Regions from separate parts of the Homo sapiens genome. Here region 2 is linked to region 1. Evidence: fine-mapped expression QTL. A gene starts in region 1. The other region holds a variant in brackets. All regions are shown on one strand. Distances are from middle to middle. Region 1 holds the start of ANKRD55 (ankyrin repeat domain 55). Region 2 overlaps ANKRD55 (ankyrin repeat domain 55).

Evidence for each region.
Region 2: its variant is fine-mapped to the expression of ANKRD55 in whole blood (TOPMed, PIP above 0.99).

The regions. Positions count from the first base shown.
Region 1 is chr5:56,226,497-56,242,870 of GRCh38, forward strand. ANKRD55 (ankyrin repeat domain 55) reads right to left here and starts at 6,834. Exons shown (of 12, transcript NM_024669.3): 1 at 6,745-6,834; 2 at 6,360-6,450. The coding sequence starts at 6,417. RefSeq lists an enhancer at 13,660-14,859.
Region 2 is chr5:56,152,339-56,168,712 of GRCh38, forward strand. ANKRD55 (ankyrin repeat domain 55) reads right to left here. Exons shown (of 12, transcript NM_024669.3): 6 at 7,495-7,555. Among named protein-coding and RNA genes, the nearest start is that of ANKRD55, 73 kb to the right of the region's middle. RefSeq lists a silencer at 4,380-4,549 and enhancers at 4,540-5,335, 7,726-8,521. The variant T/C (reference allele first, on the strand shown) is at 8,669.

The DNA of each region.
Region 1 (16,374 bases):
TAGAGAGCTTCTTCTGCACAGCAAAAAAAAAACTACCATCAGAGTGAACAGGCAACCTGCAGAATGGGAGAAAATTTTTGCAATCTACTCATCTGACGAAGGGCTAATATCCATAATCTACAAAGAACTTAAACAAATTTACAAGAAAAAATCAAACAACCCCATCAAAAAGTGGGTGAAGGGTGTGAACAGACACTTCTCAAAAGAAGACATTTATGCAGCCAACAGACACATGAAAAAATGCTCATCATCACTGGCCATCAAAGAAATGCAAATCAAAACCACAATGAGATACCATCTCACACCAGTTAGAATGGCAATCATTAACAAGTCAGGAAACAACAGGTGCTGGAGAGGATGTGGAGAAACAGGAACACTTTTACACTGTTGGTGGGACTGTAAACTAGTTCAACCATTGTGGAAGACAGTGTGGTGATTTGTCAAGGATCTAGAACTAGAAATACCATTTGACCCAGCCATCCCATTACTGGGTATATACCCAAAGGATTATAAATCATGCTGATATAAAGACACATGCACATGTATGTTTATTGCAGCACTATTCACAATAGCAAAGACTTGGAACCAACCCAAATGTCCATCGATGATAGACTGGATTAAGAAAATGTGGCATGTATACACCATGGAATACTATGCAGCCATAAAAAAGGATGAGTTCATGTCCTTTGTAAGGACATGGATGAAGCTGGAAGCCATCATTCTGAGCAAACTATCGCAAGGACAGAAAACCAAACACCACATGTTCTCACTCATAGGTGAGAACTGAACATTGAGAACACTTGGACACAGGGTGGGGAACACCACACACCCGGGCCTGTTGTGGGGTAGGGGGAGGGGGGAGGGATAGCATTAGGAGATATACCTAATGTAAATGACGAGTTAATGGGTGCAGCATACCAATATGGCACATGTATACATATGTAACAAACCTACACACTGTGCATATGTACCCTAGAACTTAAAGTATAAAAGAAAACAAAAAACAAACAAAAAAACCCCTGCACATCTGTGCGTGGGAACTTTAAAAATCCACAACACAATGGAATAAGAGCTTGATTGTGAAAATAAATGTTTCATTAATTTGATTTTCCATTGATGTCTTTTTTTTTTTTTATTAAACCTTATTGCTGGCCAAGGAAAAGACATTCTGCAGTAGAAAGAACACCGGTTTTGAAGTGAAACAGATTTAGCTTGGAATCCTAGCTTTGCTGTTTTACTTTGTGACAACATTGGGTAGGTCATAACCTTTTTGAATTTCCTCATCGATAAAAGGGGGTCATATGTGAAGCTGATATGAGGATTATATGAGCTAGTCTGTGTGCAGTCCTTAGGACAGAGCCTGGATCTGCTAAATGCTCCATAAACATTCGCTCTTGTCAATATGTATCCATGTAAAGCCCTGCACAGAGTCTGCACCAAACAGATGCTCCCCGCTTCCCCCACCTCTTACTTGCCAATTTTTCTCCTAGCTTAAATGAGAATGGATTTTACCAAAAACCGAGTCACAGTGTTGCGTGCTTTCTGGGATCTGACCTCTTCTCACTCCCTGCAATGGGTTGAATGGTGGCCCTAAAGACATGTTCTAACCTCTAATCCTGGAACCTGTGGCTATTCCCTTACATGGCAAGAGAGTGACTATGACCTTATATCTGAAAGGATGTGACTAAGCCAAGGACTTTGAGAGGAGGAGTTTATCCTGGATTATCTGGGTGGTCCCTAAATGCAATCACATGCATCCTTAAAGGAGAGGCAGAGGAACTTTGAAACAGGTACACAGAGGAGCGATGCACACAGACGAGGCCAAGTGAAGATGGTGGCAGAGACCAGAGTGATGAGGCCACAGCAGCCAAGGCTGGAAGGACCAGGGAAGATTCTTTCCTAAAGGTTCTAGGAGAAGGCCCCCAGCTGACTTTTTTTTTTTTTTTTGAGGTGGAGTCTTACTCTGTCACCCAGGCTGGAGTGCAGTGGCGCGATCTTGGCTCACTGCAACCTCCGCCTCCTGAGTTCAAGCAATTCTTGTGCCTCAGCCTCCCAAGTAGCTGGGACTACAGGCGCATGACACCACATCCAGCTAATTTTTTATTTTTACTAGAGACAGGGTTTCACCATGTTGGCCAGGCTGGTCTCAAACTGTTGATCCTAGGTGATCTGCCCACCTTGGCTTCCCAAGCTGCTGGGATTACAGGCATGAGCCACTGCACCCGGCCTGCTGCTGACATCTTGATTTCAGACTTTTGGGCACCAGAACTGTGAGAGGATAAATTTCTGTTGTTTTAAGCTACCCAGCTTGTGATAATTGGTTACAGCAGCACAGAGACAATCACACACTCTATTAATCTGGGCTAGAAGACAAAGCCCTTCCTCTCTTTTTCCAGCAACTCGACAAGAGAAACGACCTGTGCAAGAGGGTGGACCACAGCCCACACAGGTGTGTGCAAACACACCGCTCAGCCTCGTCAGGCATATTTCCTCAGAGACCCTGGCACGGCCAGGCCCTCCTCACCCCCAACAATACAGAAGAGTGGGTGAGGCCCTGAGGCTACCCATCCCCCCACCTCCCGCCGACCCCTCGCCTGTTTTTTTTTTTTTTTTTCCCTGTTTTCTCTCTCAGGTTTGGGATTCTTTCAGGCGCAGCAAAACTTTTCTTTCCACAAGTCGTGACAAAGCTTACAATGCAAGTATCTTCAGTTACATAATATGTAGACTTTAGCAGGAACCTCTGTGTTCTGTAGTAAATGGCTTTACTACAGGTCGCTTCCTGCGTGTGTGGGCTTTGAGAGGGAACACAGCTGGAAAGAACACGTGGGACCAGAAGAGATGTTGCTATGGTGAAAGCTGAAGGCACAAAAGAGAGTCGAGAGTTCTGAAGACCCAGGCTTCCTCCCTCACAGTTTTGCAAAGCCAGCCAGAGACCATGCCCCTGGCCAGTCAAATGATCTGATCGTTGGGCCTTCCAGCAGCTCTGTGAATATGTAATATAGTATTATCCACATTTACAGTCAAGGAGACAGAAGCCAGTGGAGATCAACTAGTTTGTGCAAGTTCATGTAACTAGGAAGAGGGCAGAGACAGGACTTGAGCAAATGACCATCTGTCACCAAGACCCTGGCATGCCTCGTTGCCTCTAGCTAAAGAGAAATATAGGAAAATGCATGTGGAGGGGTTCAGTCTTACCAAACCCACCTCGTTGGAGCCCTGAAGGTCCTTCTGCATCATATTCTTCCACCATTCTCTGGGCAGCCATGAGCCAGAGTCAGTGCTAGGCCAGGGATTGGCCATGTGCAGGAAGCTTCCTATTGCCCTGTTGTATGGATGGAGAACACCTGGGCCTCAGTCCCCTCTGTTGCTATTTAGTGGGGTGTTGTTATTATTATTAGGAAGGACCCAACTTTGAACCTCTCTGTGCTTTAGTTCCCTCATCTGAAATGTGGAAGAGGGGTAGGTTGGATGACTGGTTCTGCATCTTTGCTGTCCATGAGAACTTCCCAAGGAGTGTTGGTTGGGCCAACCACTGCAGTTAAACTGGAATCTCCCTGGGTGGGATGCAAGCATCAGCATTTTCAGAATTTCTTCAGATGATTCTTTTTTCTTTTTTTTGAGACAGAGTCTTGCTCTGTCGCCAGGTTGGAGTGCAGTGGCCTGATCTCAGCTCACCGCAACCTCCACCTCCCAGGTTCAAGCGATTTCCTGCCTCAGCCTCCCGAGTAGCTGGGACTACAGGCGTGTGTCACCATGCCCAGCTAATTTTTGTATTTTCAGTAGAGACAGGCTTTCACCCTGTTGGCCAGGATGGTCTCGATCTCTTGACCTTGGGATCTGCCCACCTCGGCCTCCCAAAGCACTGGGATTACAGGCGTGAGCCTTGCGCCCGGCCCAGATGATTCTTAAGTACAGCCAATGTGAGAACCAACAGGTTACTTGATTGCTAAGATTCTTCCAGCTGCAATGTCTTCTGTCCCCATCTGCATGTAAAGACAGTACTGCTAGGGTTCACTTATCCAGACAGTAACGATTCATGAAAAACCCTCAACTAAAGCCCCATGTTCAACTTTTCCCGAGAAAGTCACCTCCCTTTGGTTTGTCCAACAATATAGTATTTAAAATCTGTATAATGGTCTCAACCCTCATGGTCTTTCATGCTTTTAAGAAAGAGGAAGGATTAATGGGTAATAAAACTATTCAGGAATGGCTTAGTTAATTATTATTCTAGGTCTTGCTATAAATGGTATCCTAGGGTTCTGAAAAAAATAATTAATGTAATTTAGTCATCCAGCACTAAGCCCTCATTTGATCTGAGGACTGCTACATTCAGGCTGAAGGTAGAGAGATGAGTAGTCTTTTGCACTTCAGAAACTCCCAGTCCAAGGTGATAATAACAACAGCAATAATAATAACAGCTGCAGCCAAAATGGGAAAATACTTATTGAATATCAGGCATTGCTAACAGGTGCTTTTTATATGTTATTATTTTAGATCCTCACAACAACCCTGCTAGGTAAGCATCATTTCCTTCATTGTATTCCTGGGGAAACTAAGGCCCAGAGAGGTTAGGTAACTTGCCAAGGTCACACAGCTAAGAAGTAGATGATCTGCCATTCTGATCTACGTCTATAAGATTTAAAATCCCATGCTCTTTCCATCATATGATAAAACCTCTAGAAAGAGAGAAAGGATTGAGAAATAGAGATAAAGATGGCAGGGAGAGGGTTAACTTCCATGGGAGAGAATCCGGCCCAGGTGGAGGAATTGCTGTGAATTGCTCACATGAAAGGTGTTAAAAGAAAATCAGTCTTGTAATTCTGTATCTTAACTATGTTTGGGGCTCAATCCTGTTAGAAGGTACAGCACTGGAACATGTAAATTCATTATGAAGAGCTAGTTCTTCTTCAGTCAGTCCCAGCTCCCTCCAATTAGTCTTCAAAAATAAACCCATTGTATGTTTCGTGGCTTAGCAACATCATTTTTCAGCCAGTGTGAGCTCTTTGGTTCTTAGCAGATTTTCACTTTTACTGACTGCCATCAGTGATATAAAATGTACCAGGAGGAGAGGATGGTGGTGGGCACAGCTGTGACAACGCCTTTCTCTATGCTGTTCAGATCCAAACACGGTATGAGCCGGCACGTTCTGAAGGCGCGCACACACACACACACACACACACACACACACACACACACACACATACACATACACAAACACTATTCCAAATGAGCTAAGACCTGGAGAACACACTATACACATATATACATTAGCTAACTCAGGAATCTAAATATAAATTTATTTTTGGAGAAACCCCCTGGGCTAAAATAATTCACCCACAAAGCCAGATGTAGCTTGAGGGGTAATAAACATGCTATGGCCTAGAGCAGGAAAAGGGAAAAAAGAATGAAGCAGTACATTTTCTTAATGAGGCTTTTTCAAACCACCATTTCATGTTGTAGCCAAAACAGATAAAATCACCAAAGGAACTTAGGATCTTGAAGAATATTCAGAGACTGTAGAAAGTGGTTTAAATAATAGATATTTAAGAAAAGATTCTAAAAAATATTTATTATGTTTATAAAATGGAAATTTCATGTTTATACTAAAAAAAGATTTACTATTACACATAAGTATTACACGAAGATGTATATAAACACATTGCATATGCAAAATGTATACACATAGACCACATGGCCAAATATGTGATATTATAAGGATAAGTTGATCTCACAGCAACATTTTGATGTGGAAAATTACCTCCACTCCAGAAATTATAAGTAAGGAAGATATACCCTGGCATTGCAAATAATAGCATAGGGATATGTCATTACACAACCTTGGATGAGATAACATATCAACCCGACATAAATACAGGCAACATCTATTCCTGAAAGGAATAAAAAAATGCTTACGAAGATACAGCAATGAGATACTGGGCTAATCGAATGACAAAAAAAATGTGATGTGTTCTTACATTGCTTACCCTAATTTTTAAAAAAGATTTGGAAAAAACAGAATAAAGATGACACTATCTGAAATAGTTGGTGTGCTTGAAATCCAGTTTTTAAAATTTGAAGGTAGGAATACTTCAACAAGATCATAAGCTTATACAACAGATCATAAGCTTATTTTTCTGTTTCAGATGCTTATCAAACTAGAAGTGAACATTTTGAACAGGTTTGTTTTCTAGGTGAAATCCTCTTTCCACATCCTACATAGCAAATACTCATGCACACCCACGCACATGAACACACACACACACACACACACACTTCTCTTTCTCTCCTTACAACTGTAAATCCATACCATGAGACTAAGGATGCTAACAACCAAAGAATGTGTTAAAGCAGCATTTTACCTCTTTGCTGATCAAACACAGAAGGGGTGCTGAAATCCATGGTAGCCTGTCTCATCATTTACCATCAGAATGGCAAAAAGCATCCAGGTCTCTAGAGAGGAGAAAACACCATCTCAAACCTTACTGTCAACATGACAGTCAGAGGCAGCATCGTTTGCCAAGACCTCTGTTTCAGGATTAAATGTGCATCAGAGCTGCAGGTTGTTGTCAAGGCAAGGTGATGAAAATAGGTAAATGCTATTCCTGTAAATACCTGCTAGGAAAAGAGTTACTCTATGGCCTCATTCATCAGCTGTACATGGGCATAATACACCCTCCACCCCCAAATCAATAAACACAATTACTCAAACTCCAAAAAGATAGTAAAATTGTATGGGCCACCTGCCTTGGATCTGGGCTGGAAAAACACAGCAGATCACGGAGCTTCAGCAGCTGGAATGTCGCTTTACACCAACAGAAATCTGAATGGGTGAGTGAGGATTCACAGGGCCAGACAGAGCATGTGCAAAGCTGCCAATGCAGTTCGCATTCGGCTGTGCTTTTGGCGGAGTGAGAACTGCATTTGGGTCATGTGAGCAGAGAGTGCCATCTCAATGGAATAGGATGTAAATATTGTAGCAGGAGGCTGCTGGCCATGTGCTGTGTGGAGTAATTATCCATGTTGGCAGTCTTCTTCACTCCCCTTTCAGCTCCGTTCTCCAATTGACAGGGAGGATGGGGAAAGGCGTCATTTGAAAGGTGACATTTCAAGGCTCGAGTGTCTGTGGTGATAAAATTAAAACAGTCTGCTGTCACAAGGGTGTTTATTGTAGCATTACATGTAGTAAAACCTGAAAAATCACCCGAATGTACCTCATTCAGGGAGCAGCTAAGTAAATGGTAGTAAATTCGTACTCTAGATTTAAAAATCTGACATAAATAAATCTGTGTATTTATCTGGTGACATGTCACTAATCTATTGTTAAATGAAATAAACAAGTTATATATTTCATTTGTTCGTGTTTTAATAAAACCGGAAACCACTCACTGTATACATTATTTTTATATATTCAGACGAACACTGAAAAAGATGTAGAAAGATACGTACTAAACTGCTAATATTGGTTCCCTCAGGCCACTGTGATTAGAGTAGGAGATTTCTAACTTGTTCTGTATCAATCTCTGTATTTTTGGCTTGTTAATAACCAGTATCTATTATCTTGTATTTGTAATAAAAATATGATATACTAAATTCAAACAAAGTTCTATATTCTAGGCACAACCAGATTTTTGGATAAGTCAAATAGCCATATAGTAGATGCTTGTTGAATCTAATAATAAACACCAGCTTCCTTTGCCCTTGGATAGGATGATTCTGAGGCATGGTGTTTTACTCCGTTTGCCATTTCCCTTTCAGGATTAAACTCCTTCAGGGTTAAACTCCACTGCCACCTGTGAGAATAGGTCTAATAACGTTCTTTTTATGGGCTGCTGTTCCCTCCCTGTATTACTTTCCCACGTTCCTACTGATATTTCCTGCACTTCTCAATAAGTTACTTGCATTGGAATCATTGTCTCAGGGTCTGCTTTTACGGAAACCCAAATTAAAATATTTCTCCACAAGAGGGTACATTTCATAAGGGCAGGGTCTTTGTCTACTCTTTCTTTGTCTGCTTTGTCCACTCCATGTCCTTACAGCCTAGCACAGAGAGGGGCACAAAGGAGGTGCTCAGTACATTTCAGTGCATGAGTGAAACTTCACTGAAGAACTTTCCTTGCTCAAGCTGACAACCTGCTCACTGACATTGTAACATTGGAACCCAATTAACCATCCTTCATGGGGTAAGAACTTTCTGACAAGAACTTCTGTAGTCCTTGAAATTTTCTAGTCTAAACAAGAAACCATGTACTTGAGGATTGGTTCTAGGGTTTCTGGAATTGGCTCTCAAATCTGATTAAATTTAAGGATTCTAATAGCTTTATTTCTAGGAGTAAAGAGAGCATTGATAGTCCATGGTGTGAAGTGGTAATAGAGATATGCAAAAAGCTGCACTGAATATTCCTAATTAATCACTGGACACAACAGGCAAGGAGTTGGGTGACTGTGTAGATGATACCCTCAAACATTTTTGGAAACTTAATGAATATGGCTGGTTGCTCCTAATGTCACTGGACAAAGTGATGAAAGAAAAGGATTAGCTCACGGATTCTAATTCCCAGCTCAGGTGCCATATAGATGACCTGGAGGTGTGTATGTGTACCCTGAAGGAGAGTCTTACCTCCTGTAGCCATGAGGCTGAGGATGCTGCAATCAAATGCAGGCTCTCATGCTGCAGCTGCCTGAATTACAATGCAAATTGAACTCCTGAATTACAGCGCAAGTCAAACTCCCAGCTTCACAGGATGTCTGCTGTTAAAGTGAGGACATTGATTGGGAAAGTAGAGGATACTGTAAATTGGATAGAGACATGTGAGAAGACCCTGATGAAGCTGGGGGACACTGAGCATCTAAACTCTGAGGAGTCTTCTTTGCCAGTGGAAGTGGACTCCCAATCCCTAGTAGAAGCAGCCTCCCCATCTCCAGTGGTAGCAGCCTTTTCACCTCAGTCTGAGAAGATTGACTCTGAATTGCCTGAGGAAACTGTATTGGCCTTCCTTGAGGCAGCTGCCGTGCACAACAATGCTGATTCTCTTCAGGAGCCACCACCATTGTTCCTCTGCTTCTAGACCTATAACTAGACTCAAGTCCCAGCAGCCCCTAAAGGTGAGGTGCAAAGTGTGACCCATGAAGTACATTATATTCCAAAATAATTACTTGAACTTCCTAAAAATCCAGGAAACATGGGAATGGATACTAAGGGAGTGAAATAATGGTGAAAGGAACATAAAGTTAGATCAGGTTGAATTTATTGATATTAACTAATTAAGCAGAAATTCTGCATTTACTGTTGCAGCTCAGGCAGTTATAAAGTGTTCTAACAGTCAGGTTAGTGGGTTGAAACATGGACCAAAAAGTGGCCCAGGGTGAGCAAATTGGAAATACTGGACTTGCCTTGGTTTAATGTGGAAGAGATTCAAAGGCTTAGGGAGATTGGAATGTCAGAGTGGATTTGTCATTTAAGAACTACTCACCCACACTGGAGGGTCTAGAAGACATACTTTTAGCAGTACCGTGAGGAATAGGAATAAATCTGTGAGGGGAACCCCAGCATCTTTGAAGAGTTCTGTGATTGCTCTTCTCTGCAGACAGTGAGAACTGCAGTCATTGAATTGGGAAACCTAAATGCAGTGGGAATAATTGGATCCTAGGATGGTAGGGCTAAGTGGTGGTACTCAACTGCCAAAGACAAGGTGGGCATAGTTACTGTTGTGGAAAAAAAATAGAATCATGGCACCCCAAATTCACTATGCCACAGGGAAATTTAAGCTTGAGAACTGAGTCATGCAAAAAGCTGTCTTCTTTCGTTCCCAAACAGATAGCTGTATTTTCACATGCTGACTTTATCATATGTAGAGTTACTGGGCATGAGAGAAATGTGTAATTGCTTTTTCCCCTATTCCCTCTTTTTTTTTTTTTTTTTTTTTTTTTTTTGAGACGGAGTCTTGCTCTGTTGCCCAGGCTGGAGTGCAGTGGTGTGATCTCGGCTCACTGCAATCTCTGCTTCCCAGGTTCAAGCAATTCTCCTGCCTCAGCCTCCCGAGTAACTGGGATTACAGGCCCCCACCACCACACCCGGCTAATTTTTGTATTTTTAGTAGAGACAGGGTTTCACCGTATTGGCCAGGCTGGTCTCAAACTCCTGACCTCAGGTGATCTGCCCACCTCAGCCTCCCAAAGTGCTGGGATTATAGGCATGAGCCACCACGCCCGGCCAACTCTATTCCCTCTTTCCACATGTAATATGTAGACTCACTGAGTGCTAATCAGAGCCTCACAAAAAGGTGACCACTTGTTTCATTGCCTATCCTCTCTCCTTTATTTCCCTCCTCTTCTGCTTGCTCTGTCCTCTTTAAATACTGAAGTTCCTAAAACTCTCTTTGGAAAAAGCCCAGGTCACAGATCCCACTGTGACCTGTGTTTCTTTTTCCTGGTTGCATCCTCAACCTTGGCAAAATAAACCTGCAGTCAATTAAGATCTACCTCAGTCACTCTTTGGTTTATGCTGTAATGGACAGCAGAGGTCCAAGCAGCAATCAGAGTTGTCTGAGTCATAGAAACCTATGGCATTGGCTAGTTGATCATGGCGTTTCTCAAAGTAAAATAGATAGGAAGCCTATGAAATTCTTAATCTGCATAAGCAGAAAAGCTCTAGGTTAAGTGACAAAAGTCTAACACGAATCATAAAAACAGAGAATCATGATCCCTCAATTAATTCCCAGAATTGAGCCTGTTTACAAACCTAAAACCCCTTAAATGAAGGGGAGGCTGGAGCCCTTGAGGAAAGGCCCTGGTACCCTACTAAATGTTTATACTGTTAATCTTTCTCTCAGTTTTCCCCAAAAGAGATGTATGGCCTTTTTACTAGGGTAACTGTGCATTGAGAAAAGAGAAATAATCAGACCTCTCAGGGCTTACTGGACATTGGCTCTGAGCTGACACTAATTTCAGGAGACTCAAAATATCACTGTGGCCTGCCAGTCAGAGGAGGGACTTTTGAAGGTCATGCGGTCAATGGGATTTCAGCTCAGATCCATCTCACAGTGGGTCTAATGGGCCCCAATGCCATCCTGTGGTCATTTCCCCAGTTCTGGATGCACAATTAGAATAGACATACTTAGCAGCTCACAGAATCTCTACATTGGTTCCCTGAATCGTGGAGTAAGGGCTATTATGGTGGGAAAGGCCAAGTGGAAGCCACTAGAACTGTGTCTACCTAGGAAAATACTAAACCAAAAGCAATACGACATTTCTGGGGGAACTGTAGAGGTCATAAAGGACCTGAAGGATGCAGGGGTGGTGATTCCCACCACATCTCCATTCAACTCTCCAATATGCTTTCCAATTTGGCAGAAGACAGGTGGATCTTCGAGAATAACAGTGGATTATAGTAAGCTTAACCAGGTGGCAACTCCAATTGCAGCTGTTGTTCAGATATGGTTTTATTCCTTGAGCAAATTAAAACACTCTCTGGTACATAGTATGCAGTTACTGCTCTGGCAAATGCTTTTTCCTCTCAATACCTATTAGTAAAGACCACCAGAAACAGTTTATTTCAGGTGACAAGACAACATTCTTGATGAACATAAATCCAAAAATCCTCAACAAAATACTAGCAAACTGAATCTAGTAGCACATTAAAAAGTTAATCCACCATAATCAAGTGGGTTTTATCCCTAGCATGCAAGGTTGATTCAACATATGCCAATCAATAAATATGATTCATCACATACACAGACCTAAAAACAAAAGCCGCATGATCATCTTACTAGATCAGAAAAGAATTTCAATAATATTCAACATCCCTTCATGTTTAAAACCCTAAACAAACTAGGCATTGAAGGAATATATCTCAAAATAATAAGAGCCATCTATGACAAACTCACAGCCAAAAACATACTGAATGGGCAACCCAGTATAGGCAGGACTGTACTGAATTCTGGAAGCATTCCCTCTGAGAATTGGAACAAGACAAAGATTCCTACTCTCACCACTCCTATTCAACATAGTACTGGAAGTCCTAGACTGAGCAATCAGGCAAGAGAAAGAAATAAAAGGCATCCAAACAGGAAAAGAGGAAGTCAAACTATCTATGTTTGCAGATGATATGATTTTATACCTAGAAAACCTCATATTCTCTCTGCCCCAAAGCTCCTACATCTGGTAAACAACTTCAGCAAAGTTTCAGGATACAAGATCAATGTACAAAAATTAGTAGCATTTCTATATACCAACAACATCCAAGCTGAGTGCCAAAACAAGAACGCAATCCCATTCACAACAGCCATACACATACACACACACATACATATACACACACACAGACACACACATACGCAATACCTAGGAATACAGCTAACCAGGGAGGTGAAAGAGCTCTATAATGAGAATTATCTTTCAAACAGATTCTTTTATTATTCTTTTCTGAAAGAAATCAGAGATGATACAAACAAATGAAAAAACATTCCATGCTTGTGGATAAGAAGGAATCAATATTGTTAAAATGGCCATACTGCCCAAACCAATTTACAGATTGAATGGTATGCCTATCAACTTATCAATGACATTTTTCACAGAATTAGAGAAAAATTAGAAAAATTTTTAGAATTAGAAAAAAACGATTCTAAAATTTATATGAAACCAAAAGAGCCTGAATAGCCAAAGCAATCCTAAGCAAAAACAACAAAGCTGAAGGCGTCACATTACCCAACTTCAAACTATACTACAAGGTTACAGTAACCAAAACAGCATGGTACTGGTACCAAAACAGACACATAGACCAATGGAACAGAATAGAGAGCCCACAAATAATGCTGCACACCTACAACCATCTGATCTTCAACAAAGTTGACAAAAACAAGGAATGGAGAAAGGACTCCCTGTTCAATAAATGGTGGTGGGATAACTGGCTAGCAATGTGCAGAAGATTGGAACTGGACCCCTTCCTTACACCATGTACAAAAATCAACTCAAGATGGATTAAAGACTTAAAAGTAAAACTTAAAACTATAAAAAATCCTGGAAGATAACCTAGGAAATAACATTCTGGACATAGGCCCTGACAAATATGCCTATGCCTATGTTGTCTTTCATGACAAAGACACCAAAGCAATTGACAAATGGTACCTAATTAAATGAAAGAGCTCCTGCATAGCAAAAGAAACTATCAACAGAGTAAACAGACGACCTACAGAATGGGAGAAAATGTTTGCAAATTATGCATCTGACAAAGGTCTAATATCCAGAATCTAAAAGCAACTTAAACAAATTTATAAACAAGAAAAAATCCCATTAAAAAATGGGCAAAGGACATGAACAGACACATTTTTTTTTTTTCCAAGACAAGGTCTCACTTTGTCACCCAGGCTAGAGCACAATGGTGCAATCTAAACTTACTATAGCCTCCACCTCCCAGGTTCAAGCAATCCTTCTGCCTCAGCCCCAAAAGTAGCTGGGACTCCGGGTGCATGCCATCATGTCTGGCTAACTTTTTTGTACTGTTTTGTAGAGATGAGGTTTCACCATATTGGCCAGGCCGGTCTTGAACTTCTGAGCTCAAGCAATCTGCCCACCTCAGCCTCCCAAAGTGCTAGGATTACAGGAGTGAGACACTGTGCTCGGACATGAATAGACACTTTTAAAGAGACATACCCGTAACCAATAAGCATATGAAAAAATGCTCAACATCACTAATCGTTAGAGAAATGCAAATCAAAAACCACAATTAGACCCATCTCCCATCAGTCAGAGTGGCTATTACTAAAAAGTCAAAAAGTAACAGATGCTGGAGAGGTTGTGGAGAAAAGAGAACACTTATATACTATTGGTGGGAATGTAAATTAATGCAGCCACTGTGGAAAGTAGTTTGGAGATTTCTCAAATAAATTAAAACAGAACTACTATTTGATGCATCCATCAAGTGGAAAGTTTCCTTAATTTCAATTTTTCAGTCAGATTTGTGTAAGCTGATCCAATTGAGATGTCTATGTTATTGGTTATTGTTTCTGCTGTTAATCGTCATTTCTCTTCAATTAAGGTATAAACAAGTTGAATTTTTTCCTTGCAAATTGAAATGGATGATCTACTGTTTCAGGCTTCATTTCCAAAGTGATCTCGTCCTTTCTTAAAATGAGTTATTCATTGATAAACGACTGATTTCTTTGGGAGCGTTGAGCTCATAAACTTTTCATAAAAGATCAACGATTTCACCATTCTTCCACTCAAACTTCCCCATAAATATAATATTTGTTCTTGTTTCAATTTTAGCAGGATTGAGCTCATAAACTTTTCATAAAGGATCAATGATTTCACCATTCTTCACTCAAGCTTGACTATAAATTTAACATTTGTTTTTGTTTTTAGCAGAATTCATGTTGCTCTGATAGAGGCTCTTTTCAAACTGAAATCTTAAGCTTCTTAGTGCTTTCAACTAGATCTTGTTCAGACATGTTAGTATGAGTCTATTTCAGATATGTTAGTATGAGTTTATTTTGGTGTAAAAAACTTGAAATTCATACATAGTTTTTTCATAAAACATATTTTCTATGAACTATTTGAAGACCCCTCATACGTAGATGTACAAATAACATACTGATATGGTTAGGCTTTGTGTACCCACCCAAATCTCACCTTGAATTGTAATCCTCATAATCCCTACAGGTCAAGGGAGAGACCAGGTGGAGGTAATTGGATAATGGAGGTGGCTTCCCCCATGCTGTTCTTGTGATAGAGAGTGAGTTCTCACGAGATCGGATGGTTTTATAAGGGGCTCTTCCTCCTTTGATCAGCACTTCTCCTTCCTGCCACCTTGTGAAGAAGGTGCCTTGCTTCCCCTTTGCCTTCTACCTTGATTGTAAGTTTTCTGAGGCCACCCCAGCTGTGCTGAACTGCGAGTCAATTAAACTCCTTTCCTTTATAAATTACCCAGTCTCAGGCAGTTTTTTACAGCAGTGTGAAAATGGACTAATACAATAAATTGGTACTGCAGAGAGTGGAGAGCTGCTATAAAGATACCAAAAAATGTGGAAGTGACTTTGGAACTGGATAATAGGTGGAGGTTGGAACAGTTTGAAGGGCTCAGAAGAAGACAGGAAAACGTGGGAAAGTTTGGAACTTCCTAGAGACTTGTTGAATAGCTTTGACCAAAATGCTGATAGTGATATGGGCAATGAAGTCCAGGCTGAGGTATCTTAGGTGGAGATGAGGAACTTGTTGGGAACTGGAATAAAGGTGACTCTTGCTATGCTTTAGCAAAGAGACTAATGGCATTTTGCCCTTGACCTAGAGATCTCTGGAACTTTAAACTTGAGAGAGATGATTTAGGGTATCTGGTGGAAGAAATGTTTTGGCAGCAAAGCATTCAAGAGATTATGTGGGTGCTTTTAAAAGCATTCAGTTTTATGCATTCAAAAAGAGATGGTTTGGATTGGAACTTATGTTTAAAAGGGAAGCAGAGCATACAAGTTAGGAAAATTTGCAGCCTGATGATGCACTAGAAAAGAAAAACCCATTTTCCAGCCAGATGTGGTGGCTCATGGTTGTAATCCTAGAGCTTTGAAAGACCGAGGCAGATGGATCACTTGAAGTCTGGAGTTCGAGACCAGCATAACCAACATGGTGAAACCCTGTCTCTACTAAAAATACAAAAATTAGCCAGGTGTGGTGGTACATGCCTGTAATGCCAGCTATTTGGGAGGCTGAGGCAGGAGAATCACTTGAACCCTGAAGGCAGAGGTTGCAGTGAGCTGAGATCATGCCACTGCACTACAGCCTGGGGGACAGAGTGAGAGTCTGTCTCAAAAACAAAAAACAAAAAACAAAACAAAACAAAACAAAAAAAAAAAGAAAAAGAAAAACCCAAATTTGCAGAAGTAATGAGGAACCAAATGTTAATTGCTAAGACAATGGGGAAAATGTCTTCAGGGCATGTCAGAGGTCTTCACAGCAGCCCCTCCTATCACAGGCCTGGAGATCTAGGAGGAAAAAATGGTTTTTGGGGCCAGGACAGGGCCTTGCTGCTTTGTGCAGTCTCAGGGCTTTGTGCCCTGTGTCCTAGCCATGGCTAAAAGGAGCCAATGTACAGCTCAGGCTATTGCTTCAGAGGGTGCAAGCCTTGGCAGCTTCCAAGTGGCGTTGCACCTGCAGGTGCACAGAAGTCAAGGATTGAGGTTTGGGAACCTCCACCTAGATTTCAAAGAATGTATGGAAATATCTGGATGCCTAGGCAGAAGTTGCGTGCAGAGACAGAGCTCTCATGGAGAACCTCTGCTAGGGCAATGAAGAAGGGAAATGTAGGGTCAGAGCTCCCACACAGAGTCCCCACTGGGGCACTGCCTAGTGGAGCTGAGAGAAGATGGCCACCATCCTCCAGACCCCAGA
Region 2 (16,374 bases), 74 kb before region 1:
CAGAGTGGTTCTACAATTGAAGTTTTGTTTGTCAGACTGCTCACAAAAATCTGCTTACATAAGAATGTGCATTTAATATATCCTAAACAATATATATATCCTAAATGCTGTGCATAACAGTGCTTCTCTGGTTAAATGCATTCAAAGTTCTAACCCAGATGCCAACAGCTCAGAGCCTCTCTTGATAGAACACTCTTCCTGTCAAGGCTAAAATGAGAGCAGGAGAGGTTAGTTTCCATTTAACTCCCGGTAGCTGCAACAGACAAGCCTCACTCTATGTCAATGATTCTTCTGAGGTCCTGTTTTGAAGAACAAAAGCACAAAGGACAATCTGACCTATCTTGCTTTTTTCAGTGTTAACCGCAGTGTGGATAACTTCTAAATAAGTCAGTTTATAATTAAGCAGTGTGGTTAATGAAACAGGAAAAACAAACAGATCATTGGAACAGAACAAAGAGTTCAAAAATGAAACCATATATTAAAAAAAATCTGGTAACAAACAAAAACATAATTTAACATAACATAATCCAGTTCTTGGGGTAGAGAAGGCCTTCTTTAAAAAGACATCAAAAGAAAAAGCAGAAACAGACAAGAATGATCATTTTAATTATATCAGATTTTTACATTTCTGAATAAGAAAAGGTACTATGAACTATTTCAAAATAGCCAACAGCCTACGAAAAAGTATTTACAACCCAACAGCAAAGCATTAATATTCAGCATATAAACTAAACTCCTATAGATCAATAAGAAAATGACAACCCAATGGATCAATCGACAAAGAATGTAAACAGGCAAGTCACAAAAGAAGATATAATAAAGACCATTATGTCTATGAAATGATGTTCATCTCATTAATCAGGGAAAATGCAAATAACAAGAAAATCCAGCAACAACTGGGAAAAAACCAGTACTTCCACTAAAAACAACAACAACAACAACAACAACAACGACACGCAGCTATTTTGGGGGAATAATTAGGCAGTGTGTATTAAAAATAAAAACATACACTCTCTACTACCCAGCAATTATTCTTTTAAGAGAAATGCTTGCACAGAGTATGCAAAGAGGCTTGTACAAGAAACACTCTTTAGACTGGTGTTTATGATGGTGAAAAATTGAGACAACCTAAATATCCATTCATAGGGGAATGGCAAAATAAATGGGGGTATTTTGATATTATGTAACATGATGAAGCCATTAAAAGGAATGAGCCACAGGCTGGGTGCCGTGGCTCACGCCTGTAATCCCAGCACTTTGGGAGGCCGAGGCAGGTGGATCACGAGGTCAGGAGTTCGAGACCAGCCTGGCCAACATGGTGAAACCCTGTCTCTACTAATATACAAAAATTAGCTGGGCGTGGTGGTGGGTGCCTGTAATCCCAGCTACTCGGGAGGCTGAGGCAGGAGAATGGTGTGAACCCGGGAGGTGGAGGTTGCAGTGAGCCGAGATCGCACCATTGTACTCCGGCCTGGACAGGGCAAGACTCCATCTCGAAAAAAACAAAACAACAACAACAAAAAAGGAATGAGCCAGATCTATATGTATCAAAAATTCTAAGACAAATGCTTGAGTTGAAAAAACTAAGTTAGGCCGGGTGTGGTGGCTCACACCTGTAATCCCAGCACTTTGGGAGGCTGAGGCGGGTGGGTCACGAGGTCAGGAGATTGAGACCACCCTGGCTAACACAGTGAAACCCCGTCTCTACTAAAAATACAAAAAAAATTAGCTGGGCGTGGTGACGGGTGCCTGTAGTCCCAGCTACTTCGGAGGCTGAGGCAGAACCCAGGAGGTGGAGCTTGCAGTGAGCCAAGATCGCACCACTGCACTCCAGCCTGGGCAACAGAGTAAGACTCTGTCTCAAAAAAAAAAAAAAAAAAAAAAAAAGTTGCAGAACACATAGAGTGGTACCTTTTTTTAAACAATGAATTTAACTGTTACTCCCCGCTACCCCTCATACAATGGAGGCTACATCATGCTTGGAGCTTGTTGAAAAAAGACAGACGAGAGAAGATTACTTGTTCAAAACATTGAGCAGCCAAATACAGGAACTCCACCAAAGTAATGAATGAAAAAGAAAGCCTGGGCTGTGTTCTTTCCATTTCAGAATTGTATTTATTTCTCAATGGCAAGAGCTTTTGCTGTTATAAATTTATCGTGATTGGCTCTCACTAGCAATGACCAATAACTAAATAAAATAAATAATTGGCAAAAACGGAATTACAGCAGAAGATTTAGTTTTAAAGTTTTTTTTTTTTTTTTTTGAGACAGAGTCTTGCTCTGTTGCCTAGGCTGGAGTGCAGTCACGCCATCTCAGATCACTGCAACCTCCATCTCCCAAGTTCAAGCAATTCCACCGCCTGCCTCAGCCTCTGGAGTAGCTGGGGCTACAGGCATGAGCCACTACAGCCGGCTAATTTTCATATTTTTAGTAGAGACGGGGTTTGGCCATGTTGGCCAGGCTGGTCTTGAACTCCTGGCCTCAAGTGATTCACCCACCTCAGTCTCCCAAAGTGCTGGGATTACAGGCGTGAGCCGTGGAGCCGGGCCTCAAAGATCTTAACTGGCTTCATTTGCAATTCTAGAACTGGGCTTCATTCCAAAATGTTCTGGCCAGGCATGGTGGTGCACGCCTATAATCCCAGCACTTTGGGAGGCTGAGGCGGGAGGATCACTTGAATCCAGGAGTTCTAGACCAGTCTGGGCAACATAGGAAGACCCCTGTCTCTACCAAAAACAAAAAATGAGCTGGGTATGGTTGTGCATGCCTGTGGTGCAGGGTTTCTGTGGTCCCATCTACTCTGGAGGCTGAGGCAGTAGGCTGCAGTGGGCTGTGATCGTGTCACTGCACTCCAGTCTGAGTGACAGAGTGAGACTGTCTTAAAAAAAAAAAAAAAAGTTTTCCAACGAGCCCAGCAGAGGAGGTTGGTTTTGTAGACAGAGAAGGACTGAAAAAAGCAGAAGCAAAGAACAAAAAGCAGATTGGTTATTTCAAAGTTACTTTCCTTGAAAGATGAAAGATGAGAACAGGGAAACAGAACAACAGAGAAAAAACTGATTGCTTAACATCAGGTTACTTTAGGTTACTTTTTGTTGTCAGGATTAAAAGCAGAGGAAATTTCATTATTATGCTAAGTAAAACTAGCCTGTTTGGGAAATTTGGGTGTTATCTCTCTCCTGATTTCTCAGAAGGTCAGATAACAACTCGGTCTCAGTTTGGTAACTTGGAATTTAAGTATGAGGGACTCCATTTTGATATTTGGCCTGGTCTGTTGACCTAGTACAGGAGCTCAGTCAAAAACAAAATTATGAGTGCCTCAGAGTTATATGAGTGCCATCTCTACTAAAAATGGAAAAATTAGCCTGGCATGGTGGTGTCTGCCTGTAGTCCTAGCTACTCAGGAGGCTAGGTGAGAGGATCACCTGAGCCCAGGATGCGGAGGTTACAGTGCACTGACATCGCACCATACCACTGCACTGTAGCCTGGGCCACAGAATGAGACCCTGCCTCAAAAAAAAAAAAAAAACCAAAACCATGTATATATCTATATACAGATACATATATATACACATACACATACATATATGGATACATAATATATACATACACATATATATCCCTATGTTTTGTTTTAAATCTTCAGTGATTTAAAGCAAAACCTCAGGGGAAAAGAGGGTTGCACTGTTAGAAACTTCTGCTTTAAAAATGAGAACCAGAGATGAGGTAGCACACTCTGGTCACTCTGCCCATGGTGTGGAAGCAGGCAGCCGGAGTGGCGGAGTCCATGTGTATGAAAAACACAGGCAAGCATTAGCAGTTGGTTTCAGATGGATTCCAGACAGCAGGCTGTGAATGGACCAAAGAGGAAGCTGTGACCATGGGTAGGAAGTGCCTTGTTGAGGCCCTTGCTCTGCTGGGTCTGCTTTCTGGGCTTAAAACCCAACGGGTCCATATGCTGGTGTAATAGCAGGAGGAATCTTTTTGCAGAAGTCCCTTTGCATGAGGAGGAACCAGGGACTTTTCCAATATTTACCACATATTCTATGTAAGGTGTTACAATTACCACTCTTAGAAAGATCCATGTCTGCTTTCATTGTCTGCACCGCCAGGTGCCTCCTGGGGTGGAGAAAAATAGGGAACTATGTCTTTGCTGGGGGGTTGCTAGTTCTACTGAGGGGTGCTGGAGTTGTAGGTCTATAAGTGGAATTTAGCTTTAGGGTATAAATGAGCAAATTTGTCATCTTTCTAAATAAGACCTAGTTTAGGGATTACCCCAGAGGTTGGAGGTGGAGGAAGTAGTTGGCAACTTGCCCTGAAATCTAGAGGTTCACAATCTGCTGACATGGACTCCGCCACTCCAGCTCCCTGCTTCGACACCATGGGCAGAGTGACCAGAGTGTGCTACCTCATCTCTGGTTCTCATCTTTAAAGCAGAAGTTTCTAACAGTGCAACCCTCTTTCCTCTGAGGTTTTGCTTTAAACCACTGAAGATATGGGGAGTGAAAGCAGCAGGGGCTTTCTGATGTGGTCATTAATGCTAGTCAGAGGGAGGCCTTTAATCAGAAGGCTCAAGACAGATGGGTGGACCGGGCGCAGTGGTTCACACCTGTAATCTCAGCACTTTGGGAGGCCAGGGTGGCAGATCACCTGAACTCACTGTGGGGAAAAGAAAGAGAAATCAGACTGTTACTGTGTCTATGTAGAAAGAAGTAAACATAAGAGACTCCATTTTGTTCTGTACTAAGAAAAATTCTTCTGCCTTGAGATGCTGTTAATCTGTAACCCTACCCCCATCCCTGTGCTCGCAGAAACATGTGCTGTGTCGACTCAAGGTTTAATGGATTTAGGGCTATGCAGGATGTGCTTTGTTAAACAAATGCTTGAAGGCAGCATGCTTGTTAAAAGTCATCACCACTCCCTAATCTCAAGTACCCAGGGACACAAAACACTGTGGAAGGCCACAGGGACCTCTGCCTAGGAAAGCCAGGAATTGTCCAAGGTTTCTCCCCATGTGATAGTCTGAAATATGGCCTCATGGCAAGAGAAAGACCTGACCGTCCACCAGCCCGACACATGTAAAGGGTCTGTGCTGAGGAGGATTAGTAAAACAGGAAGGCCTCTTTGCAGTTGAGATAAGAGGAAGGCATCTGTCTCCTGCTCCTCCCTGGGCAATGGAATGTCTTGGTGTAAAACCCAGTTGTATATTCCATCTACTGAGATAGGAGAAAACCGCCTTAGGGCTGGAGATGAGACACGCTGGCGGCAATACTGCTCTTTAAGGCATTGAGATGTTTATGTATGTGCACATCAAAAGCACAGCACTTTTTTCTTAACCTTGTTTATGATACAGAGACATTTGTTCACATGTTTTCCTGCTGACCCTCTCCCCACTATTACCCTATTGTCCTGCCACATCCCCCTCTCTGAGATGGTAGAGATAATGATCAATAAATACTGAGGGAACTCAGAGACCGGAGCCGGCGCGCGTCCTCCTTATGCTGAGCGCCAGTCCCGTGGGCCCACTTTTCTTCTTCTATACTTTGTCTCTGTGTCTCTTTCTTTTCTCAAGTCTCTCGTTCCACCTGACGAGAAACGTTCACAGGTATGGAGGGGCAGGCCACCCCTTCACTCACAAGTTTGAGACCAGCCTGCTCAACATGGTGAAACCCCGTCTCTACTAAAAATACAAAAATTAGCCGAGCATAGTGGTGCACACCTGTAGTCCCAGCTACTTGGGAGGCTGAGGTAGGAGAATTTCTTGAATCTGGGAGGCGGAGGCTGTAGTGAGCTGAGATTGCACCACTGTACTCCAGCCTGGGCGACAGAGTAAGAATCTGTCTATTTAAAAAAAAAAGGCAGATGCGGGGGCATCTGCCCCAGAAGAAAGTGATTAGGAGGCTTACCCCCGCCCCCTTGCCTATGGTCACCTAGCTTCCTTGAAAATAATGTAATCGGCATCTTTGTGTATGTACATTTTTAATGTTATCAGACTTTCTTAGTGAAATGCAACCAAACCAAGCACATATTTACTTTAAAATTCCATTGAAAACCAGGTATTTAAATTGATTTTAAGAACCTTGTTAAGGAAATCAGCCTGGCTAAGGAAAATTAGTACTGCATTTTAAAAGAGTTAAGCAGATCTAACAAGACTCTAAGCTACTCTTGGACAGCTCTGCTTAGTGTCTGAGCCACCTTCCCTCAAGAACTTTGTTGAAGAGTGTTGAACGACCTTTTTGGAAGCCTTCTACTTGCAACATGAATTAAACAGCAGTTACGATCACTGGGATTAATAATGTGATGTCTGGAGCAGGTAACCCGGAATTATTAATATTATCTCTCTGTCATCTTTTTCTTTTCTTTTTGGAGGGGAGGGGGACAGGATGTCACTCTGTCACCCAGGCTAGGGTGCAGTGATGTGATCATATCTCACTGTAACCTTGAACTTCTGGGCTCAAGTGATCCTTCTGCCTCAGCCTCCAGAGTAGCTGGGACTATAGGCATGTGCCACCACACCCAGCTACTTTTTAAACTTTTTGTAGAAATGGAGTCTCGCTCTGCTGCCCAGGCTGGTCTCAAACTCCTGGGTTCAAGTGAGCCTCCCACCTTGGCCTCCCAGAGCACTGGGATTACAGGCATGAGCCAGTGTCCAGTCTTGTCATTGTTTTCCTTTTTCTTTCTTTTTTTTCTTCAGAGAGGGGGGTCTCACTTTGTTGCCAGGCTGGACTCTCAAACTTCTGGGCTCAAGTGATCCTCCCACCTCAGCCTCCTGAGTAGCTGTGACCACTGGCACGCGCCACTACACCCACCTCTCTGCCATCTTACACGAGAGAGCATGTCTTAGGCTGAGTGCAGTGGCTCATGCCTGTAATCCCAGCACTTTGGGAGGCCGAGGCAGGCAGATCACCTGAGGTCGCGAGTTTGAGACCAGCTTGACCAACACGGAGAAACCCCATCTCTACTAAAAGTACAAAATTAGCCGGGTGTGGTGGCGCCTGCTTGTAATCCCAGCTACTGGGGAGGTTGAGGCAGGAGAATCACTTGAATCTGGGAGGCGGGGGTTGCGGTGAGCCAAGACGGTGCCACTGCACTCCAGCCTGGGCAACAAGAGCGAAACTCCATCTTAAAAAAAAAAAAAGAGAGCACGTCTTGAGCCACCGCTTGCTACTAAGTTTCTGGGACTTGAGAAGACAGGAGAGAGCAATATTTATTTCTCAATGTCCAGAGGGAAGTTACAAAATTTCAGTCGTATGATAAATGCTGAAGTACTTAATGCAATAAAGTCCTTCCCTATCAGAAGCTACACACACCCATGGTGGGGATAAGTTTCTGCTGAGGATTAATAGTGAAAACAGGTCTCCCTTTCAGGGTAGGAACACAGAACCATGCCTCATGTCTCCCCGTAGCTTTTAAGAGGAAGCACAATGGTTCAGAAACGCCCTTCCTTTCACCCTCACATGCAAAATGACCACTTGTTGCTTGAGAGTGTGGCTCACCTCATTGTCCTGGTGATTAATCTCGCTGATGTTCGACTGTTGCAACAGGACCGTGAGGAGCCTGTAAGGAAAAAATAGGAGAAATGGCTCAAAATAACAGGCAGTCACGGTGCTCTTGGAATCGGTATAAAAACATGACCTTAGAAAAACCGTCAGTTGAAAGACTCCAAATGAAGATGAGGGCCCTTTCCGTTTCTCTGGGAAAAAGATCCACAGAAAAGAAGCAAGAGTGTGATAGGTTAGAAGACACCTGTGTGGAGGGCTACTGTCTGCCTCTCCCACCCTCTCTTCATCTCAGCACTCCCGAGGGGCACAAGGGGATGGAGAAACTTTAGGCTCATTGTGTTCACCAGGCCTCTGTCTCCTAGCCATGCCCTTTAAGATCCAAAATCATGTAGCAATTATTATTATGATTTTTTTCTTTGAGATGGAGTCTCGCTCTGTTGCCCAGGCTCGAGTGCAGTGGCACGAACTTGGCTCACTGCAAGCTCCGCCTCCCGGATTAGCACCATCCTCCTGCCTCAGCCTCCCGAGTAGCTGGGACTACAGGCGCCCCGCACCACGCCCTGCTAATTTTTTCTATTTTTTAGTAGAGACGGGGTTTCACCGTGTTAGCCAGGATGGTCTGGATCTCCTGACCTCGTGGTCCGCCCGCCTAAGCCTCCCAAAGTGCTGGGATTACAAGTGTGAGCCACCGTGCCCGGCCACTTATTCTTTATTCTTTATACACACATGCCTAAGCACAAGATTCACTTTATAGAAACTTACAGAGTGCTTTCGACCTGCTTCACTCCTAGCTGCATATGTCATGCCTTTTTAATGCATAGATTATACCAGGAGGTTGTCAGTATTTGCAAGTTTGCTCATTCTTTGTAAAATACACACATGCCTAAGCACAAGATGACAGTAATCAGTGTAAAACAGCTATCAATGATTCTCAGATTCAGGCTCTTACCTGACTTGGATCTCCTGCTCAGTTGACTGAAGTCAACGCTCCATCTGGGAGAGGGGGGCAGCCGAGCATAGTGGAGAGGGGCCCGGGCTCTGCAGCCAGATGGCTTGGGTTTACATCCCAGCCCTGCCACTGATGAGCTCTGTGACCTCAGGCAAGTTACTTACCTTCTTCCTGCCTAAACTTCCTCATCTGTGAGATAGGAGTGATAAAAACTACCTA[T/C]CACACAGCTCAGTGTGAGGATTAAATGAGTTAATATGCATACAACATATAGAGCATGCCTGGAACATGCTGTTATTTCTAGAGTGCTTAACCCCAGAAGTTTGGACCCTGGCTCCATCTCAGAATTGCCTGGAGAGATTTTTTTTTTTTTTAAACCACAAATACCTGGACTCTGTACTCAGGGTTTCTAACTCAGTAGGTCTGGAGAAGCCCAGCTTCTACTGTTTAAAAAAAGCTATTCAGGAAATTATGGTAAACAGCCAGGCTTGGAAACAATTGAGAAAGGTGCTGAAAGAATTAATCAATGGATACTCATCAAGATGATAAAGAATAGTGTATGGGCAGTCAATGGAGGAAATTCAGAAATTGCTTTTGGAAGAATTATTTGTAAAATGAAATTGTTTAGTCTCTTCTCCAATCAAATCTTTATCGTCTCTCAGATTGGAAGACATCTAAAGCCCTAAGTATTAAATTGTTACTTGCAATAGAAGAAAAGAAAGATCCACTAATCATATTGCCTTAGCAGTAAATGTAATACACAGAGAGCTTAAATAGAGATGGACTTCTGGTTATTTGCGGTGGAGGTGAAATAACCAGGAAGCCTGTGGTTTCAATCTTGTTGTATCATAGTCTTTTGGGGAGCCAGGATAATGCTGAGGTTTAATTCTGACCTCACTACTGCACGATCTGAGTTTCTGTATCTTCATGTATATCAGAGGGGTAGTAACGCAGTGGTGTAAAGGATTGAGTGATCCAACAGGCAGAAAGACCCTGGGTCACATACACTAAAGGGACAATGGCTATGACTGCATACAGTACATCTCTTTTATGCTCTCTGAATTCTAGATGTAGCCTTTGGTAGGAAGACATATAAAAATAATTGCATTTTGGGTCACACAATTTTTATCTTTGCAATTATTTCACCACTGGATATATTTCCCTGTGGCTGCTTTGTGAGTGGGGGCAGGGCTTACCTTGTGACTGTGCTTCTCCTTTCTTTCTTTCCTTTCTGTCTTCTCTGGCTCATTATTGGCCATTGTTTACTCTCTAGGGCCCATTTGGTCTGAGGGACTGGGGGAGGAGGGAAGGGCAAGGCAGGAGGTCAGCTGTGGTCCAGTGTGGTTATCCTTGGTTACTCCTGAGCAGACAGAGATTATCTGTAGCCAGACAGGATCTTCTGGGGCTCTAACCAGATTAGAATGGGGGTAGGGAGAGCAGGACCTCTTGTCATATCCTGGGTGGCCTCCCAAGGTTGTGGGATGAACCGTGTGCCTAGATAGTTCTCTATTTGGCTTTCAAAGCCATTCTCTTCTTTATACTGCCCTGCTCTGAGGCTGACTTCTAGGGACCGCATCAACCAGGCTCCCTTGCCCTTGGCTTCCTATCGGGTTTTGCCGATGGGGGAACTGGCAGGAGGAGGGAGAGAAGCCAGCTCCCTTTCTGGCAATAATTGTATTTCTCTACCAAAGGCCTCAGTTCTTGCCAGGTGGCCCCTCTCCTACAGCTAAGCTACCACTGCAGCTCTCAGAAGTTTCCAGTAACAGCCCCTTCCTTGCCCCTTTAGGTCTAGAAAGTGATAACATTTTCCTGCTCTTTTGGGGAAAGTGGGGGTGGGGTAGGGGGTTAGAACATCAACCATCATCTCTTGTTGGTCAATTTTTGGTCAATTTTTTTTTTTTTTGAGACAAGCTCTCACTCTGTCACCCAGGCTGGAGTGCAGTGGCACAATCACAGTTCACTGCAACCTGGACTTCCTGGGCTGAAGCGATTCATCCTCCTGCCTCAGTCTTCAGAGTAGTTTGCACTACAGGTGTGCACCATCACGCCCAACTAATTTTTTAGTGTTTTTAGTAGAGATGGGGTTTCACTATATTGCCCAGGCTGGTCTTGAACTCCTGAACTCAAACGATCCTCAGCCGCCCGAAGTGCTGGGATTACAGGCGTGAATCACCCTATCCAGCCTTGTTGGTCAAGTTTAAATAGTCTTTCCCTAGACTTTCTCCAGTTGCCACCCTTTAATTCCCATGTCTTCTCTGTCATGGCTGTGACTGATATGTGATGATCTATGTGGCCCAACTCCACTTGACTGTGAAGTCTCTGAGATCCATTGATCGTCAAAGCTGGACACAAATAGACAGATCAAGGCCCTCTCCTGCATTCTTGCCCTCACTCTGGCTCTGGCTGTCTCTCATATGTTGTGAGAACAAAGAACCTGAGGCCCTTCCTGGCTTGCCAAGACCACCATACAGTGGCTCAGTGATACAGCCTGAACCAGAAACCAGGTGTCTCATTGCCAGCCTGGGACTTCCTTGCTGTTCTGTGGTATGGAGGTGACCTGCGAGATACTTGTCCAGCATCTATGTCAATTCCTAGATGATTTGCAGCCCTCTGTTGTGCTTCCCCCGAGCTCTCATTTTGTGTTACCATGGCCCAGGAGTCATTCTACACCCCCATCAGCCAAGTTCAGACTCCCTCCTGTCCTCGGATCTCTGAGTAAGTGATGTAAGACCCATCTCATCTCAGGTGCCAGTACAGCAGGCTTGGACCCCAGCAAGAGCAGTCCCAGACAGGTGGTGTGTTGAGTCATAAGAGCACTGATGCTGGGGCCAGACTGCCACTGTTAGAATCCCTGCTCCATACCAACCAGCCAGTGACCTTGGGCGAGCTCCCAGTGCCTACATTTTCTTATCCATAAAATGCAGAGAATAATACCTACTTCCTCAGGATCTGTCATGACTTTGACTCCATGCACACAAAGCACTTGGAATAGCCCTTACATGCCATAATAAAGTTTTATATGGCCAGGTGCGCTGGCTCACGCCTGCCTGTAATCCCAGCACTTTGGGAGACCAAGGTGGGCAGATCACCTGAAGTCAAGAGTTTGAGACCAGCCTGGCTAACATGGTGAAACCCCGTCTGTAATAGAAATAGAAAAATTAGCCAGGCATGATGGTGGGCACCTGTAATTCCAGCTACTAGGGAGGCTGAGGTCGGAGAATTGCTTCAATCTGGGAGGTGGAGGTTGCAGTGAGCCGAGATTATGCCACTGCACTCTAGCCTGGGCAACAGAGCTTGAGACTCTGTCTCAAAACAAACAAAAAACAAACAAAAAATTCTATAAAATGATTAATTTTTTAATAGCTCCTACCTTCTATTTTCTGGGTCTCCACTGATTATCATTAGGTGAATGGTGGGTCTCAGAGAAGGATCAGCTAGAAGCATCCTGGGGACAACTCATCCCTATGAGCTTTCCTGTTTCGCTGGCCCCTCTGAATGTTCCCAGCCCTGGAGCTGGCCAGCGCAGTGACAGGTGGGAAAAAATGGTCCCACAACCAGCCGTCTCCCCTTCCTGTCCCTGGAGCTGCCTGTATTAGAGTGTGCTGCAGTGAGACAAACACTGCAGGTCAGAACACACCACCTGGTAACTAGAGAACAGGACCCCAAGGAAATGATTTTCTTCCTCCCTTGGGCTGCAGTCAAGAGTGATGAAAAGAGGCAGAGTGGCTGGCACTCTGACAGGGAGGAAAAAAAGTCTGCCAGTAGCCATGGAGACCATGAAAAAGACCTTCAGAGAGCCCCGTGGCTGCTTTCAGAGAAAATTGCTGCTTGCCTTCCAACACTAGCATGTGCAGCGTTGTACAAACACAACTCTGTTCTCTTTGGAGCTTTGTTTTAATGATCATGCCCCCTCTTTCACACCAGCGCCCTCTGAATGTCCCAGCCAAGGAAGCAAGAAAAGCCTTGGGGAGCTGAAAGGGGGAAAACTTGGACCTGCTGAGAAGCAGAGGGTTCAAAGTAGGAAGGGGAATCATGAGAGGAAACCTGTGCATCTTTGCTTTTGTAAACCCAGTGTGCCTTCACGTTCATGATTATAAATCACTTATCCCTGCATCAGCCTCCATCCCCATTGAGCGGGTGTTTAGTTAAGGATGCAGATTCATACTGTTTGGTTTGTTCAGGAGTTGTTTCCATCTGAGCACTAAAATCCCTCTGGAGGCAAAGGACTAATTGAAGCGTCCCTTAGCTTGTTTATAAGCAGCTTCGGTTTGAGGCTTCTCTCTGAATAACCTCCAGTGAGCACCAAATAGAAGGAGCTTGCTGTTTGGAAATCTAAGTGTTAGCAGATTTTAAATCAGTATAAAAACCTGAGCACAAGGGCACTATGTGGCCTGTACATACTGTTTATGATTAGGGGAAAATGCAGACATATGCCAGTTTACAAAGGTGTGCATAGATCCACACAAACAACACACCCCAACAACCATTGCAGTAAACCTGTGTGCCCGGCAGTAGGATGTAGGACTGCATTTACATGGGCCTGTGTCTGTGCACACATTTTTGTGGACCTGAGTGTGCTGAGGTGAAGAAGGCCAGGATGAGCACCAGTGGGGTGGCAGTAGTAGTGTTTCATTCCTTAGCTTCTTATAATGTTTATGGTGTTTCTTTCTATCTTCCATCATCATCATCATTGATGACCATCAACATTATCATATCATCACGCCATCATCATCACCATGTTCACTTTCTGAACACGGACAATGTACTAGGTGCTGAGTTCAGCGTTTCCACACATTTTCTCCTTTACTTCTGCCTACTTCCCTGTGAAGTAAGCAGGAATAATATATTTAATAGTACTTACTTCGCCAGGTGTGGTGGCTCACTCTTGTAATCCCAGCACTTTGGGAGGCTGAGGTGGGCGGATCACCTGAGGTTGGGAGTTCGAGACCAGCCTGACCAACATGGAGAAACCCCATCTCTACTAAAAATACAAAATTTTCCGGGCATGGTGGTGCGTGTCTGTAATCCCAGCTACTCGGGAGGCTGAGGCAGGAGAATTGCTTGAACCCAGGAGGCGCAGTTTGTGGTAAGCCAAGATTACGCCTTTACGCTCCAGCCTGGGCAACAAGAGTGAAACTCTGTCTCAAAAAAAAAAATAGTACTTATTTCAAGGGGAAGCTGAGCCTTGACATGTTAACTTGCCCAAGAGAATAAGAGCTGGAGCCAGATTTAAACTCAGTCAGTCTGACTCATACTCATGAGCTGGCACTCCTGGCCACCCTTCAGGGATCTTTCTTTTCTTTTTCTTTCTTTCTTTCTTTCTTTCTTTCTTTCTTTCTTTCTTTCTTTCTTTCTTTCTTTCTTTCTTTCTTCTTTCCTTCCTTCCTTCCTTCCTTCCTTCCTTCCTTCCTTCCTTCTCTCTCTCTCTCTCTCTTTCTTTCTTTCTTTCTCTCTATCTTTCTCTCTTTCTTTCCTTCCTTCCTTCCTTCCTTCCTTCGGGTCTTGTGCTGTCGCCCAGGTTGGATTACAGTGGCACGATCATAGCTCACCGCAGCCTCGAACTCCTGGGCTCAAGCAATCTTCCAGTCTCAGCCTCCTGAATAGGTAGGACTACAGGAGCACACCACTATGCCTGGCTACTTTTTTAAAAAAATCATTTTTAGAAATGAGGCCTCATTATGTTGCCTAAGCTGGTCTTGAACTCCTGGCCTCAAGTTATCCTCCTGCCTCTGTCTCCCAAAGCACTAGGATTACAGGTGTGAGCCACAATGCCTGGCCCCTTCAGGGATTTTAGATTGTTTTCAGACAAATATGGTGAAATAAGATAACGAGTGAAGAAACAAGACAAAGAGAAAACACGGGCAGGAAAAAAAAAGACATGATCTATAGTCCTACATGTATGCCAGAGGTGGGACACAAATTGAGTTTTGAATTTTCTAAATATATAAAGAAAGAAACATGCTCTGAAGTCACAGTGTCTGTATAGTAAAATTAAAAAAAATGATTTATCAGGAGCAGCATAGCAATTCCTTCTTCAGTAGAAATATTTCTTGTGGTTTCTCATATAGAATTTTTCGGAGGTGCTAATGAATCATGAGCCAGGAAGTTTTGTAAGACTGTTTCTTATAAGGCTTCTCAACGGAGACCAAGGGCTTAATGTCAAAATATGGCCATTAAAATAAATTCGGTTTCTACTTTAAACATTTAATGCAGATGTATCAAACTCTGCCATGGACCTAAAATTTCTCAAACAACTATAAAATATGTAATTTTAACAATGTAATTCCATAGGGAATCCTTTAGGGTGGACTAGTTTCCAATATTCTGTAGGTAACCAAACTACAGTCATGCATCATTTAATGATGGGAATACTTTCTGAGAAATGTGTCGTTTGGCGATTTCATCATTGTGTGGACATCATAGAGTGTATTACACAAACCTAGATGGTAGAGCGTACTACACACCTATGCTATATGGTAGAGCCTATTGCTTCTAGGCTACAAATATGCACAGCATGTGACTGTACTAGACACTGTAGGCAATTGTAACACAGTGGTAAGTATTTATGTATCTAAACATAGAAAAGGTACAGTAAAAATATGATATAATCATCTTATGGGACCATCATTACACATGCAGTCTGCCATTAACTGAAATGTCATTATGCAGCGTGTGACTCTATTTGATTTGCTGTATGGTTGTTAGGACTTAACCCAATTAATCTTTGGAGAGCATTTACCAGAAATAACAATTTTGGTTTTGGAATAGTCAATCTTAACTTTTTGGGATTATTAGTTAAAGCAGCTAGCATTGCCATAACTAAAGCAGAATTTTATCTTTCAGAATCAGTTAAGGGCTTTTTGGACAATATAACTAACTACGTCATCTGCACACAGAAGGATGTTTATTTTTCTTATTTCAACTCATCCAAGGGTGGTGGCTGGGCTGTTAGGTACAGTTTCAAGAGAGGGGAAGCCACAACTCTCTGCTCTCCTAGTTATAGCAACTTAATGTAGATCCTCAAGAGTCGAGGAGTACTGATAAGCATAATAAGAAATAGAAACACAAGTCCACAAAGAGGAAGTACACTTGGGTTGATTTTCAATTTATTATTGCAGTGATTTCAGAGAATGAACCTAATCAACTGATCCAATTGACATTGAATGTAATTTTGACTGACAAGGCTTAGTTTACCCCTTAGGTGCAATGGGTTAAGAACAGAGACAGAGAGCTTTTCACCAAAATCCATGTTCCCCTTTCTTGGATTGGAGGCATTGTTGGGAGGTAGATTCCTGGCTAGAAACTATATTCCCCAGAGCACCTTATAACCAGATGTGGTTGTATGACTAGTCCTTATTGATGGAATATGAGCAGAAATGAATTGTGTCATTTGCAGGCTGAGGTTTTAAAGAACTGAGTGTGGCTTCTCTATAGGGTAGTCCCTGCTTAATCTGCGGTTTCGCTTTCCATTATTTCAGTTACCCACAGTTCACTGTGGTTCAAAAACATTCAATGAAAAATTCCAGAAATAAACAATTCATGTTTTAAATTGTGCGGCATTCTGAGTAGAATGATGAAATCTGCCGCTAACTACACTCCGCTCTCATTAGTCACTTAGGAGACAGCTCGGTTAACAAATCAGCTGTCCCCGTATCGCAGCACTGTGTTCACATTACTCTTATTTTACTTAGCAGTGGCCCCAAAGTGCAAGAGTAGTGATACTGGCATATTGTTATAATTGTTCTATTTTATTATTATTGTTGTTAATCTCTTACTGCGCCTAATTTGTACGCTAAATTTTATAGGTATGTATGTAGAGGAAAAAAACATAGCATATATGGACTTTGGTACTATCTGAGGTTTCAGACATCGATGTGGGTCTTGGAACATATCCCCTCCAGGGTGAGGGGAGACTACTGTTCTCCTCT